4 linked regions of the Homo sapiens genome follow. The protein of the gene in region 2 purifies or fractionates together with the protein of the main gene of each other region. This does not show direct contact. Each region holds a gene or a part of one and is shown on either strand. Other genes may lie near its edges.

Evidence for each region.
Region 1: the proteins of HADH (region 2) and ETFB fractionate together in Homo sapiens (co-fractionation; one large-scale study listed by BioGRID). This does not show direct contact.
Region 3: the proteins of HADH (region 2) and ETFA fractionate together in Homo sapiens (co-fractionation; one large-scale study listed by BioGRID). This does not show direct contact.
Region 4: the proteins of HADH (region 2) and CLIC4 fractionate together in Homo sapiens (co-fractionation; one large-scale study listed by BioGRID). This does not show direct contact.

Annotation. Positions count from the first base shown.
Region 1 is NC_000019.10:51,349,389-51,352,888, reverse strand, and holds part of ETFB (electron transfer flavoprotein subunit beta), read left to right. Parts: intron 1-2,497; coding exon 2,498-2,560; intron 2,561-3,500. UniProt on the Homo sapiens protein: Heterodimeric electron transfer flavoprotein that accepts electrons from several mitochondrial dehydrogenases, including acyl-CoA dehydrogenases, glutaryl-CoA and sarcosine dehydrogenase.
Region 2 is NC_000004.12:108,024,389-108,029,691, reverse strand, and holds part of HADH (hydroxyacyl-coenzyme A dehydrogenase, mitochondrial isoform 2 precursor), read right to left. Parts: intron 2,005-5,303; coding exon 1,932-2,004; intron 1,754-1,931; exon of another isoform or gene 1,623-1,753; intron 1-1,622. UniProt on the Homo sapiens protein: Mitochondrial fatty acid beta-oxidation enzyme that catalyzes the third step of the beta-oxidation cycle for medium and short-chain 3-hydroxy fatty acyl-CoAs (C4 to C10).
Region 3 is NC_000015.10:76,214,853-76,217,469, forward strand, and holds the end of ETFA (electron transfer flavoprotein subunit alpha, mitochondrial), read right to left. Parts: intron 1,746-2,617; coding exon 1,707-1,745; 3' UTR 501-1,706; downstream 1-500. UniProt on the Homo sapiens protein: Heterodimeric electron transfer flavoprotein that accepts electrons from several mitochondrial dehydrogenases, including acyl-CoA dehydrogenases, glutaryl-CoA and sarcosine dehydrogenase.
Region 4 is NC_000001.11:24,811,447-24,814,946, reverse strand, and holds part of CLIC4 (chloride intracellular channel protein 4), read right to left. Parts: intron 854-3,500; coding exon 728-853; intron 1-727. UniProt on the Homo sapiens protein: In the soluble state, catalyzes glutaredoxin-like thiol disulfide exchange reactions with reduced glutathione as electron donor. Can insert into membranes and form voltage-dependent multi-ion conductive channels.

The sequences.
Region 1 (3,500 bases), on a different chromosome or scaffold from region 2:
TGGGAGGCCGAGGCCAGTGGATCACTTGAGGTCGAGAGTTTGAGATTAGCGTGGCCAACATGGTGAAACCCCATCTCTTCTAAAAATATAAAAATTAGCCGGGTGTGGTATCACCTGCCTGTAATCCCAGCTACTTGGGAGGCTGAGGCATGAGAATCACTGGAACCTGGGAGGCGGAGGTTGCAGTGATACAAGATCGCACCACTGCACTCCAGGCACCACTGCACTCCTGCCTGGGAGCAGAGCGAGACTCTGTCTCAAAAAGAAAAAAAGAAGAAAGATCCTTTTGGGTGAGTTTAGAGGCTGGGAGGCCGAGGTGATGGTCACATGGGGGAGAATGAGGCCTCAGCCAAAGGTGACAGGACAGAGCAGAGACATGATGTGGCAGGAGAGACTGGGCTTAGCATGGGGAGGGAGGGCAGGGAGGAGGCAAGGACAGTGCCTGGGTCTGCCTTGGTAACACAGGTAGGAAACCCAGGAAGAACAGGAGGTTAGAGGAGGATCCTACAAGGGGAGTGTGAAGAGCCCAGGAGACATCGATGCAGGTTCAGGAGACAGGCCTGGGCTTGAAACAAAGACTTGAGAATTTTGGAGGGCACTGGGGAGCTATGGGAGTTCTATGAGCAGAAGAGGGGTGGGATCAGCACTAGGTGCAGAAAGAGCCCCCCTGGGCTTTGAGAATGGACTGGAATGGGAAATTGGAGGCCAGGAGTTAGGGAAGGAGGTTAGGGCTGGGTGAGGACCCGACCAGAACCTTCCCTGCCACACTGGTGCTCCCCACTGAGATAGGGGTACATGGAGCTCATCTGTTCCCCCAGGAGACCCTCGGGCACCACCTCTGCTCAGGGGTAGCTCATCTCATTTGAGGGCAAACCTCATGGCCTCAACCAGGGAAGGGGCAGAAGAGGGACGTCAGAAGAGCCACAGGCAGATGGGAGTGAGAAGAGGCAGGGAATTAGGGATGAGGCTGAGAAGGAAGGCCAAAGACTGCAAGGTATGTCAAGCAGAGCACGGAGACAGCAGAGCACAGCAGGCTCAGGTAGAGCTGGGGCCCCCGGAGAGAGATGGGGATCCCAGGGCCAGGTCAGTTCTGGGACAAAGAGGAGGCTGATGGGTCCAGGTAGGTCACTGGGTGTCCTGCCCAGCCCTGAGAAAGTCAGAAGAAAACAGAGAGAGATTATCAACAGCAGGGGCATCAGAGTACAGATCAGTCAACTGTGGCCGAAGGGCCTACCCGGAGAACAGGCCAAAAAGGCAGGGCCTGGGTGGGGCTGCAGAGGCCGAGGTGCTGGAAGCATGGCCTTTGCAGCCCCCTGCATTTGCTGGTCGTTCTCAGACTCCGATGTCCTACCTGTCCTGGGCCAGGGACAGTTCCTGGGGCCAGGGCCTCCAGCTGGGGAAATGCCGGATGAACTGGTCAGGATGCTGTTTGTTCTAGGAAGCAGATTCACAACTCAAACTGGCTTAAGCCAGAAAGCGAATTTATTATCTCACGTAAATCAGGGGCTTCAGGCACAGCTTGATCCAGGGTCACATATGAGCTGTAGGCTCCCCTCTACCTTGTCTTCACTGTCTGCATCTCCAGGCTCAGATCCCACCAGCCCAGTGACCCCAGCAGAAAGAAAGGAGCATCTTTCCCAAGGGCCCCAGCAAACTCCCAGGGCTGACTCTTCTTTGGTGCAGCTTGAGTCATGTGCCCCTCCCTGAACCAATCACTGGGCTGGGGCTAGAATGTCCTTGCTGGCCCAGACCCTGTTCATGCAGCTGCCCAGGGGCCACATAGGGTGGGACTCCTGAGAGGCTTTATACAGAGGGCAGAGACTTGACGACAGGGATGCCAGGTGGCCCCACATGTCCCTGGACAAGTGGCTGCTTATCTCTGGGCCCAAGTGAGGGGATCGTTCTAGACCAAAAGTCAGTGAACTATGGCCCAGAGCGACCTCTGATTTGTAAATAAAGCTTTATTGGAACATCACCACATACATTCATTTACATATTATTTATGGCTGCCTGTGTGCTACAACAGCAGCGCTGAGTCACCGTGACAGAGACCGTATGACCTGCAGAGCCTGAGATATTTACTACATCTGTTCCACCATAGAAAAGGTTTGCCAACCCGACTGGCTGCGGTGACTCATGCCTGTAATCCCAGAGCTTTGGGGGATCATCTGAGGTCAGCAGTTCAAGACCAGCCTGGCCAACATGTTGAAACCCTGTCTCTACTGAAAATACAAAAATTAGCTGGGCGTGGTGTTGGGTGCCTGTAATCCCAGCTACTCAGGAGGCTGAGGCAGGAGAATTGCTTGAACCCAAGAGGCGGAGGTTGCAGTGAGCCAAGATTGTACCATTGCACTCCAGCCTGGGTGACAGAGCAAGACTCCGTCTCAAAAAGAAAAAAAAGAAAGAAAAAGTTTGCCAACCCCTGTTCTAGACAGAGGCCTGAATGGTCCATGAGCTCCACTGATTGTCATACAGTCTTCTGTCTCTCCCCATTCAGGCCATCGATGATGACTGTAACCAGACAGGGCAGATGACAGCTGGATTTCTTGACTGGCCACAGGTGAGACTGGAGTGGGGAGCACCTGCTGAGGGCCAGGCCCTCATCCCTCAAACTTCATTTCTGCCTCAAGGCCTTTGCATTTGCTGTTCTCTCCTCCTGGAACACTGTTCCCTCGGATTGCCTCATGGCTTTCTTGTTCCCCTCCTTGAGGTCTCTGCTGAGGTATCACCTCTTCAAAGGGGCCTTCCTTGCCATCCTACGTGAAATACTCATGCCCACCCGCTCAACTCTAGGTTCCCCAGTCCCCATCTCTGCCAGTCCAATAGAAATGCAGGCTGGGGCCAGGCATGGTGAGTCATGCCTGTAATCCCAGCACTTTGGGAGGCCGAGGCAGGTGGATTACTTGAGGTCAGGAGGAGTTTGAGACCAGCCTGGTCAACATGTTGAAACCTCGTCTCCACTAAAAATTTAAAAATTAGCTGGGTGTGGTGGCGTGCGCCTGTAGTCTCAGCTACTCAGGGGGCTGAGGGAGAATTGCTTGAACTTGGGAGGCGGAGGTTACAGTGAGGCAAGATCGCACGCCACTGCACTCCAGCCTGGCAACAGAGGGAGGCTCCGTCTCAAAAAAAGAAAAAAGAAATGCAGGCTTGGCACAGTGGCTCACACCTGTAGTCCTAGCACTTTGGGAGGCCACGGTGGGAGGATTACTTGAGCCCAGGAGTTCGAGACCAGCCTTGGCAACATAGTTAGACCCCATCTCTACCAAAAAAGAAAAGTTAGCTGGGTGTGATGGCACATGCCTGTAGTACCAGCCTCAGGAGGCTGAGGTGGGAGGATCCCTTGAGTTCAGGAGGTCAAGACTGCAGTGAGCTGTGATCATACCACTGTACTCCAGCCTAGGTGAAAGAGGGAAACCCTGTCTCAAAAGAAAAAAAAAAAAAGAAGCAAGGCACATAGACAAATTTAAAATTTTTCACAGCTACATAAAAAAGTAAAAAGA
Region 2 (5,303 bases):
GGCCTGACCTACAACAGCACACACATCCTTCCAGAGAGCCTGCACCACTCAAGGCAGCATTGGCCAAACCATGTGCCTGGAACCCCAGGTGTATCAACAGTGGGGTACAGAAAATTTCTCCTTGCATGAGTTCAGAAACAGTCACAGAGCTCCTGCCGAGGCTGTGCAGGGGGTGTGTGGGCAGATGCAGTAGGCGGTGTCTCAACTTCCTGGACAATATGATACTTTCTCAGTAAGTGCAGTAGCGGGGACCAGTCAGGAAAAGACATGAGTAGCGTGAATTACTCTGCTACCTAAGGAACCTCATGAAGGCAGCCTGACTGGGATGGGGAAAAGGTGGGATGAAGAGGTGGAACAGGCATGACAGGAAGGAATCAAAAGTGATGAACAGATGTGGCAGACGAGAAGGAGCCTCCAGATGCTTGAAGCTTCAAGGTGGAACTGTATGAACGGAGATGGCACGGTGGGCATGCTCTGAGCACTCCTCTGTGTTGGCTGAGAGGAGGGAGCAGGTGGTGGGCGGGGGGACATGGTAAGAGGCCTAGGGTGTGACTGTAGTGTGCAGTAGGGAAGCAGCACCCACCCCAGGCAGGACACCCAGCAACTTCAGAAGCAGATTCTGAGAAGGTGGTGGAAAAAGAAGCAGAGGGACCAGCAATGATAGGCTGTTGAAGCCCATGCCCAGAGCAAGCTAAGAGCATGTCCTGAGGCCAGGTCCTGCTCTTCCAGCTTCAGCCCACAGGCGGCCAGGGATGGTGAGGGCTAAAGGGCATGCACCTATGCAGAAAGGGACCACAGACAAGAAGAGGGCTTTCAACTTACCATCTGATACTTGGTGCATTGGAGAATGCATCAAATGGACAGTGAGGAAAACACCATTAAAAGGTGGATCTCTCACATGCTACATTCTAAAACATTACATTTTGTTAAAAAAAAAAAAAAGACATACAACTGCCTTTCAAGGTAGGGTAAAATGCTCTGTGCTTTCTTTGAGGTGTAATTAGGCATATTTGTTGATAGATAAACCAGAACTGTTGGTTTGATCTTGGAGCAAAAGTGAGGCAATTGCTTCCATAAACCATAGAGAAAAGTTTTAATATTTAAAGCAGATTTTGAGGAAGCAAATGTGCTTTCATCTCTCTGGAAGAGCTGGTGTAAATGTTTTGTTTAAAAAATGACACTCTCAGGAGTGAGCATTTATGAATGAAGTAATTGAAAACAATTACACTTGCTTTTTATCCAGTCCTATTAAGGCTTGTTTGCCTTTGAAGCAGACATGAGAGCTACCTTTCCAGAAACCAGGGAGGGAAAGCAGGCAGGAGAATGCAGATCAATTTAGAGGCCTGGACCCTGTCCCAAATCTGATATTTCTACAGCAGAGAAAAGCATTCTTTGTCAATCAAGTACTGAGGAAAACTGTTTACACCATTCTTAAGGTTACAAAAAGTACATCATGACATCACTCAGTAAGGACAGACTACTAAAAACTGTCCTTACCACATATCGGCCTTGTCACATATTTCTAATCACCTGTCAGTCACAAGTTTTAGAACCTTAAGGAACTTTCAAGATCTCCTAGCCTAGTGATTTTTACATTATGATTATTTTTAAAAGCAGTAAACCTTTTAATCAAAAGCAGAGATCCAGGATATCAATCTGGGCCGGCCATGCAATTGCTCTGGCTGGGACTGTAGTGGGGGTGGTGGGAGTTCCAGAAACCTTTCTCAGAGGCCCACAGGGAAGCCAGGAGGCCCTGGGAAAACAGTGAAAAAGGTACCAGGGCTCAGGGTGCAGCTGAGCTCACAAAGCTAGAAAACAGACACTGCTTCCTCCATTGTGCACGGCCCGACCCCTCCTAGAGACACTGAGAATTCCAGACAGTGGCGCCAGGAGCTGAGGTCTGCTGCTCCTGGCCTGGGTCAGAAGGATACCTCGTTCATACAGCCTGATTGCTTCCATGAGGTATGGAACCAGGAGGCGGTTCACAATAAACCCAGGAGTGTCCTGTTTTGGGAGACAGAAAAACAAAAAACTAGTAAATTTTCATTAAATGGTATCTTTTGTGAAGTCACCAAATTGCCCCTTCTTACCCTGGATCATGTTTGCCCCCATTTATCAAGCTGTACATTTTCAAAATTTGCAGCATGGCCTTATTTCTATCTCATATGACAATTTATCCAACAATCATAGTACTTAAAAAAACATTCAAACCCAGATGCCCCACTGCACAGATCCTGACATAAAGACAGATCAAGGCACAGGTGTGACCTGGAAGAGCATGGCTTTGGGAGAGACAGATTTGGGTTCAATCTTGAATACTCTCTTGGTCCTTCTGTCACTCTGAATCTGTTTCATCATCTGTGAACTGGGGGTGACAGTTTGTCTCAAAGTTGTGAAGATAAATCAGAAAACACATAAAATGCTGTACACACAGCCCTACACCCATCCCTTTATTCCTCCTCTTTCCTCCCAATTCCCTTTCAAGAATCGACAAAACGTCACACTCCACCTTGAATGGTCCTCAAAGGAGGACTGCTTTCCAGGCTCCTTGGAGCCACTCCTCGGCTACTCAGCAACTTCTCAGGTTCCAGCGCACACTGCAGTGGAGCTGACTTGAGGGCACGTGCTCCGACAAAGGAGCAGAGCCTCTGACAGAGAGCTGGCCTTTCACGGCACACCCCCTAAGACCTCTGCATCCTGCGGTGACCCCTGTGCCACATATGCCTTTCATCCATTTCCCTTCTCAGTAACTAACAATAATCATCTCTCTGGAGGACAGGTGTGGGATTTGGATTTTATCTACTGATCTCTTCCGGGGACTTGTAGAGAAAAGCAGGTGATTTTTTTGTTGAAGCTGATTTCCACTAGGCAAATGGTGCCTCCTCTTTTGTCAAAAGGCTGTGATCTTCCTGAGGGCAGAAATCCTCACCCTGGCCTGAACTCTGCATTCTGTTTCTAGCACACACCAGGTACTTCCTTAATGTCTGAATTACAGATGACCAGGCACTCCTCACAGAGCTAACCTGACTGCATGCGGGGAAACTGGACAGTAACACAAAGGATGTGAACCTCCTTTAACCCTAGGCAAACTGAAACCAAGCCCTAACCCCATCTATTGCCACATGAGCACAAAGATGCACAAACAAGTTTTATCAGCTTAATTAAGATTATGGAACAATACAGATTTTATAATTGAGGCAAAAATACTCTTTTCAACTTCAAAAGGTTCACTATAGACTCAAGATAGGGTACCTGAGAACATGAAGCTCCAACAGTTAATATCTTCTACAGAAAAAGCTCATAGAGCTCAATAAGGAAAAAGTGCCAAGACTCATTAAATATTTAAACTCACTGGCCAGTCGCAGTGGCTCACACCTGTAATCCCAGCACTTTGGGAGGCCAAGGCGGGAGGATCATGAGGTCAGGAGTTCAAGACCAGCCTGGCCAACACAGTGAAACCCTGTCTCTACTAAAAATACAAAATTAGCCGGGTGTGGTGGCACGCGCCTGTGGTCCCAGCTACTCAGAAGGCTGAGGCAGGAGAATCGCTTGAACCCGGGAGATGGAGGTTGCAGTGAGCTGAGATTGCGCCACTGCAATCCAACCTGGGAGACACTGCAAGACTCCATCTCGAAAAATAAAAAAATAAATAAATAAACTCACTAGTAATCAAAAAAATACGCATTTTTGCCAACAAGATTATCAAAGGTTTTTCCCCCACTGTAATAATATTTGATGCTATTGAGAATGCAGAGAGACAGATGCTATCAGTATATTGGTGGAATGTGAAAAGACACAGTCTTTTTTTTCTCTTGGCAGGGTCTTGCTCTGTTGCCCAGGCTGGAGTGCAGTGGCATGATCTCAGCTCACTGCAGCCTCCACATCCTGGGCTCAAGCGACCCTCCCACCTCAGCCTCCCAAGTAGCTGGGACCACAGGTGCACACCACCATGCCCAGCTATTTTTCTGTAGAGAGGGTTTTTGCCATGTTGCCTAGGCTGGTCTCGAACTCCTGGGCTCAAGTGATCCACCAGCCTTGGCCTCCCGAAGTGCTGGGATTATAGGCGTGAGGCACCGTGCCTAGCAGGAGACACAATCTTTAAATAAAGTAATTTTATTTTATGTAATCAAATTCATATTTTTCAGATTATTTATTAAACACATTTTATTTACTGTACTTACTGTGTGCCAGGTACTGTTCTAAATACTTTAAAAATATTAATTTATTCATTCCTCATAATAACCCTGTGACAGAGGTACTATAATTATCCTTATGTGAAGCATGAGGACACTGAGGCACAGCGAGGTTAAGTAGCTTGCCTAAGGTTACACAGCTAATAAGTGCCGGCACCAGGATTTAAACCCAGTTGGGCTAGTTCATACCCTTAACCTATATACCACAATCCCCTCATGAAGTCTCACTAGGAAGGCACATTCCAGGCACATTAATGCCCCTCTTCTATGTCAAGTATTGGTAAAGTACAATACTGTAGCCCACAGCCTGTTTTTGTAAGTCAAGTTTTACTGGAGCACAGCCACACTCATATTGCATATACTGTCTATGGCTGTTTTCATGCTACAACAATAGAACTGACTACTTGCAACAGAGACTGTATGGCTGAAAATATTCACTATCTGGTCCTTTACAGAAGTTTGCTGACCCTTGTCCTATGTAGTTGCCATATATTGTCCAGATGCCTCATAAAGAGCTTCAATAACTGACCCAGAAAGACCCTCTGAAAGCCCTTAGAATACCACACAGAGAGAGTTCTGGAATGACCTAACAAGATAATTTAATGAGAACAAAGAGTTCCCATCTCTGCAGCTGCCGTGGCCACTCTGATGGAAGACTGAATCATTACTTTGTAGATTAATTATTATGCTGCTGAAGATAATCATTAGCTTTTCCCTGTACTTCTGTTTCCATATCTTTTTGTCTTGCACAGATGTTCTTTTCAATACCATTACTACTTTCTTCCACTAACAAAGCATAACTGCGTAAGAAAGTACAATCATAACATCCAATTATTAATATGAGTTTAGAAATCTAGATGACTTAAAACTACAGAACCAAACAAACAAAAAATGGGTGTTAAAGCATGAGACTCCCTAACAACACTTTACCCATGGACGGGGAGGAGCAGGACACACAAGCCTGCTCTCTTTGGCTGCTGGAGTCCACCTCAACAGATGGCTTCTTCAGGTGATTCATGAACAACATGATTTTTCATGGGTTAGTACAGTACTGTAAGTTCAAACTCGAGAATATTTTAGAAAGCAAAAGTTTGCTATGAGAACTATAAT
Region 3 (2,617 bases), on a different chromosome or scaffold from region 2:
ACAGCTGCTTGGGGCTGAGGCAGGGCAGCCATGACAGGAGGGAGCAAAGGGAGAAAGACCAACCAGTTCAACTCTGAGCCGAGGCACCACCTGGGATGTCCCTCCCTGAGCCAGCACACCTTCTACTGGGGGTGCCTCTGTGGCCATCACCTTTGCCATCTCTCCTGTCCCCCAGTTATAGCATCCAACAGGGATGAGGGGTAAATGGAAAAAATCTTGAGCAAGGTTAGCCCTCTTAGGAAGAACCTCACAGATAAAAACAAGACATAGGAATTACTCTCCCAAAGGTGATTCAAGCCATGTGGCCTTGGCCAAGTCACTTTACCTTCTTCACTTCTCTGTGCTTCAGTATGCCCATCTATACAACAAGGGGTCTGACCAGATAATCACCGGGCTCAGACATTCTAGGATTCTTCTATTCTAACAGACATTACTTGCAAAGAGGCATCATTCTACTGCTCTCCTCTCATCTCATTAAAAGAAGACTGAAATGCCAAAGATACAACTTTTAAAAGTGTTTTATAGCAACTGATTGTGACACAAATCAGAAAGGGTTCACTAGTCAGCTGGGGAAGGGCCCCAGGCTGGTCACACAAAGGCACTCTAGCCACCTCCATCACTTATCACTTCCCTTCTCTTCCCTACTGTCTGCTTGATCCAGGTCACTACTCCTACTTCTGCAGATCTGATTCAGGAGGGCAGCCCTCTTTGTTCTACTCACCTACCTACCCACGCCTTCCTGCAGGCCTGTTCAAAGCCTCACCAGCCTCTGCTCTTGGGCCTGCATCCACACCAGCTGCAGCCCTGGTGACACTCTTGGACCTCAGCTGTGCCCTGGGCAGCAGAATGAGAGTGCCAGAGGTGACTACACAGGCCTGGGTGCTTCCTAAGAGAGCCCAAAAGAAGCCAACAGAAGGCAAAAGAAAGGCTAGAGCATTCTCTGCACAGGATTTTGAATGTTTATAATAACATCAAACTATCTGCTTGCATCAGAGGCCATGCTGTCTCAAAGCAGCCCCTCCTCCACTCTCCCTCCTTTACAGACAAAAGTCCTATAAACTGACAAAACCTTAAAATTAAACGGAAAATGAAATTTACCTTAAGCCAACTAAATACATGGAGCTGGGTCAGGTTTAAGTCAGGTCTGCTTTTGTCACATTAGCTATGGTCTTCTGAAGACTGGAGTATGTTTAAGATAATATTCATGCTTTATAGCCGTGCTTTTTTAACTCTGCACTTGCCAATTCAGTTACCTTCTCCTATGAAGTTTGCCCTTCAACAATGAGATTAGTAGGTTGATTAGGCTGGTGGAGACAATCATGTTTACAATCTTCCTAAAACATAGAGCTCTCCATGAACAAGAAAGGCAAAAAAATAAATAAATAAACAAAATTTTTACTCCTTTTCTTCAATTTTCTCTAGAGGCTAGGCATATTTCTGATAGTTTTAAAGCTGTGGAAAAGCTTTATTATAGATTTTAGTACAGAATTTAAAAAGTTCAAACAATAATTGTTTGGAACCACAAATAATTAAAAGGAAACACAGCAATCCCATAAACAAGCATTCTGGCATCTGTTAGAAATTTTCCCTCAAATTATGAAATGTAGCTCTCCATGCTTTCCAATGATTGTTATAATACCCACAAATATCTGTGATTTCAGTGGAATACTTTAACAAAAGTTTTCTTTTTAAGGCATGATCCTGATTCATTTTTTCTTCAATATCTCAGTCATTTCAGGAACTACCTGCAAATAAAAACAAAAAGTAATTAAGCAACTAGAGCCTTCACTGTGATATGGTCACAGCTCCGTAAGCATTACAGGGAGGCCAAAAGAAACAACACAAATCACTGTTGAGGCACGAGGGCCCCCTCCTCTCCACCAGGAACCCCCTGTTCTCCGGTAGTCTCTCTTCCCACCCAGGGCGACTACCCAGGACCCAGGGCTGACAGGGCTTACAGCCCACTCATTGCCTAGGTGCCTTTTGCCTTTTTTTTTTTTTTTTTTTTTTTGAGACAGGCTCTCACTCTGTCACCCAGGCTGCAGTGCAGTGGTACAATTATGGCTCACTGCAGCATCTACCTCCTGGGGTCAATCACTCCTCCCACCTCAGCCTCCCAAGTAGCCACCAACCTGTCTAATTCTTGTAGAGATGGGGTATCGTCATGTTGCCCAGGCTAGTCTCGAACTCCTGGGCTCAAGTGATCTGCCTGCCTCAGCCTCCCAAAGTGTTGAGATTACAGGCGTGAACCACTGCACACACTGCTACCTTTTGGCTTTGTGACCCAACCACAAATTTCAAGAAGGCACCCTAGAAACAGGAAGCCCAATTTTTCTTGTCTGGGTGAAGAGTACTGTGTATTTACCTTCATGTTTTGCTTGGCATTCTTCCCACCCTTAACTGCATTCCTGACTTTCCTTCCAAGTCCACACCAAAGTCTCTAGCTTACTGCAATTATGACTCCTGCCAACCTCCTTTATACTTGTTCTCTCACTGTTCGTTCATTCATTCATTGTTCATTTCACAAACATATTGGTTGCTTTTTCAGCAGCATGCTACTATCATCTGGCACACAGAAATGTGCTACATGCTGAACATTCAATATCATCACTCTTTA
Region 4 (3,500 bases), on a different chromosome or scaffold from region 2:
ATATATCTGGACATGGAGGGCAACAGTCAAGTTAACCAGTAAGAAAGGTTTTGGTCAGTAGAAACAAAACATGTCAATTTTCAGGATAATGAAACTGGAAAAGCCTAAAAGAAACAAATAATGCTTTGAATCTATGCCAATATTACAGTATGATGCAAAGCTGCATATCTGCAATTTAGGTAACTATCATTACAGTACATCCAGGACCTAGAGATCTGGAACACCTCAAAGAAGTAAGTAAATAAAAACTCTGAATCCTAGGGACACAGTCGGAAAAGTCAATGTCCTTGGATTATAGCTTTAGAAAGTTACCTTTAAAATGAACTGAAATCAAATCTCATTGCAGTCCTGTGCCACACTCCTGCTAAGACATTCTTACTGGGTTCAGTTGGAATGTGTCTTTCCCCACCCCTTCTCCTCTTTAAACTTCTCTCTCAGTTTGAGACCTACAGTCCACAAATAACCAGTCTTTCCTGACCTATCAGACACATCCCAAATCTGTTTCTACCACATATTCTACAGCTTAGACAAATCCCCACCTTTCTTAGTATGGCTGATTGGCCTAGCTGGAAGCCAATTCTTATATCTGTGTAGCATTAATTATAAGAAACATAGAAGAGAGTCCTAGTCATTCCAAATTAATGCTGCGAGAAAGATCTCTACTGACAAATAACACAAGCTTCAAAGAAGTGACAATATTTTCATACGTATTTTCCTTGATACTCACTTGGGAGGGCATAAGACTTCTTCAAGAAATTCCTCAATCTTATTTACATCCGTTTTGACTTCACTGTTGAAAGTTATAAATGGTGGGTGGGTCCCGGGAGCCAAGTTCTGCAGGTCTGCTGGCTTCCTGTTGGGCAAAATATTGGTCAAAATCAGATCATTTTTTACTCTTAAACAACAATAATACTTTAAATTCTCAAAGTTGGCCAGGCACGGTGGCTTGCGTCTGTAGTCGTAGCACTACAGGAGGCTGAGGTGGGACACTGCTTAGCCCAGGAGTTTGAGACCCAGCCTGGGCAACATGGTAAGATCCTGTCTCCACAAAACATAAAAAATTAGCCAGGCATGGTGGTGCGTGTCTATAGTACCAGCTACCAGGGAGGCTGAGGTGGAAGGATCACTTGAGCCTGGGAAGTTGAGGCTGGAGTGAGCCATGATCGCACCACTGCACTCCAGCCTGGGCGACAGAGAGACCCTGTCTCAAAAAGAAAATAAATAAATTGTCCGGGCATGGTGGCTCATGTCTGTAATCCCAGCCCTTTGGGAGGCCGAGGCGGGTGGATCACCTGAGGTCAGGAGTTTGAGACCAGCTTGGCCAGCATGGTGAAACCCCATCTCTGCTAAAAATATAAAAATTAGCTGGGCATGGTGGTGCGCACCTGTAGTTCCAGCTACTTGGGAGGCTGAGGAAGGAGGATCACTTGAACCCGGGAGGCGGAGGTTGCAGTGAGCTGAGAATGTACCACTGCACTCCAGCCTAGGTGACAGAGTAAAACCCTGTCAGAAAAGAAAAAGAAAAAGAGAAAAAGAAAAAGAAAAGAGATCAAAGTGGTTCTAAAATTTAAAGTATATAAAACTGAATAAGAAATGGTATTTTTCAGCCGGGCACGGTGGCTCACGGCTGTAATCCCAGCACTTTGGGAGGCCAAGGCAGGAGGATCACGAGGTCAGAAGTTTGAGACCAGCCTGACCAACATGGTGAAACCCCATCTCTACTAAAAATACAAAAGTTAATTGGGCGTGGTGGCATGTGCCTGTAATCCCAGCTACTCAGGAGGCTGAGGCAGGAGAATCGCTTGAATCCCGGAAGCAGAGGCTGCAGTCAGCAGAGATCTCACCACAGCACTCCAGCCTGGGCGACAGAGCAAGACTCCATCTTAAAAAAAAAAAAAAAGAAAGAAAGAAAGAAAGAAAGGTATTTTTCAACCAGGTGTGGTGGCTCACGCCTCTAATCCCAGCATTTTGGGAGGCCAAGGTGGGCAGATCATGAGGTCAAGAGATTGAGACCCTCCTGGCCAACATGGTGAAACTCCGTCTCTGCTAAAAATATAAAAATTAGCTGGGCATGGTGGCATGCACCTGTAGTTCCAGCTACTTGGGAGGCTGAGGAAGGAGAACCACTTGAACCCGGGAGGCGGAGGTTACAGTGAGCCAAGATCGCACCACTGCACTCCAGCCTGGTGACAGAGCAATACTCTGTCTCAAAAAAAAGAAAGAAATAGTACTTTTCCACTAGATATAATAGCTGTAATAGTATTCTAATAAGAAGCAAGCCTCCACAAAATACATAATTTATGGTAAGAAAATGCTTTGATTTTTTTTTTAACCAAAATACAAAATCCATCATTCTCATTCCAAATTAACTAAGTCACTCATTAGAGATAGTGATAGAATGAGGAGGGAAAAAAGATTTTGGAGAGTTAGTGTCTGGTTTCAACTCTGGCCCCAACTAATTGTGTAAAGATGGGTAAGTCATGACTTCCCTAGGCCTTTTTTTTTCTTTTTGGCAAAATAAAAGAGAAAAGCAGCTGAATCCTGCAGTCATCTTCAACTTCAAAAGATTCCAAATTCTGGTGCTATTTCTTTCCCATTATTCTAGAAGTCCAGGCTTGACAAGGAAAAGGATCACCAGATTAGACTATCTAATATCAAAATTACTTCAATACATAAAAGATGGCATAATGAAGGGTAAAAAGCAACAAAGAATGGACAAAGTACTGAGTGAGAAAAGCTTAAAATCTACATTACCTAAGGATTTTGTCCAAATTCATTCCAAAGGTCATCAAAAAAATCAAATAGGTATGGGTCAAAAGAAATTGATGAGAGACAGATAAAACAAGTGAACACACAGAAAAATGTAAAATAGCACAACTATAAAGGGAATTTAAAAGTAAACAATAAGATGTCTTCCTCCTGTTGATTAGGAAAAATTGAAAACACCACAAAACACTGATAAAGATGGTGAAACTGTTATGCTGACAACTACTAACAGCAAGAAGTGTTTGTACTATCTTGTTAAAAAAGCAAAATGGCTCACCCAAACCCACCAATGAATTTTAGGATCAAAAAATGAGATGACCAGATATGGTGTGTTTCCTATGGCACCATGAAGTATTCTTACCAAAGAAGTTGACCCTGAATCTAATCAAGCCTCTGGGGCAGGCTGGGTGCAGTGGCTCATACCTGTAACATTAGCACTTTGAGAGGCCAAGGCAGGAGGATTGCTTGAGTCCAGGAGTTCAAGCGAGACCAGCCTGGGCAACATAGTGAGATCCCATCTCTATAAAAAAATTTTTTTTAATTAGCTGGGTGTGGTGGCATGTGCCTGTAGTCCCAGCTACTTGGGAGGCTGAGATGGGAGGATTGGTTGAGCCCAGGCGGTCGAGGCTGCAGTGAACAGTGATCATATCACTGCACTTCAGCCTGGGCAACAGAGTGAGACCCTGTCTCAAAACAACAACAACAACAAACCAAAACAAAGCAGCCTCTGGGGC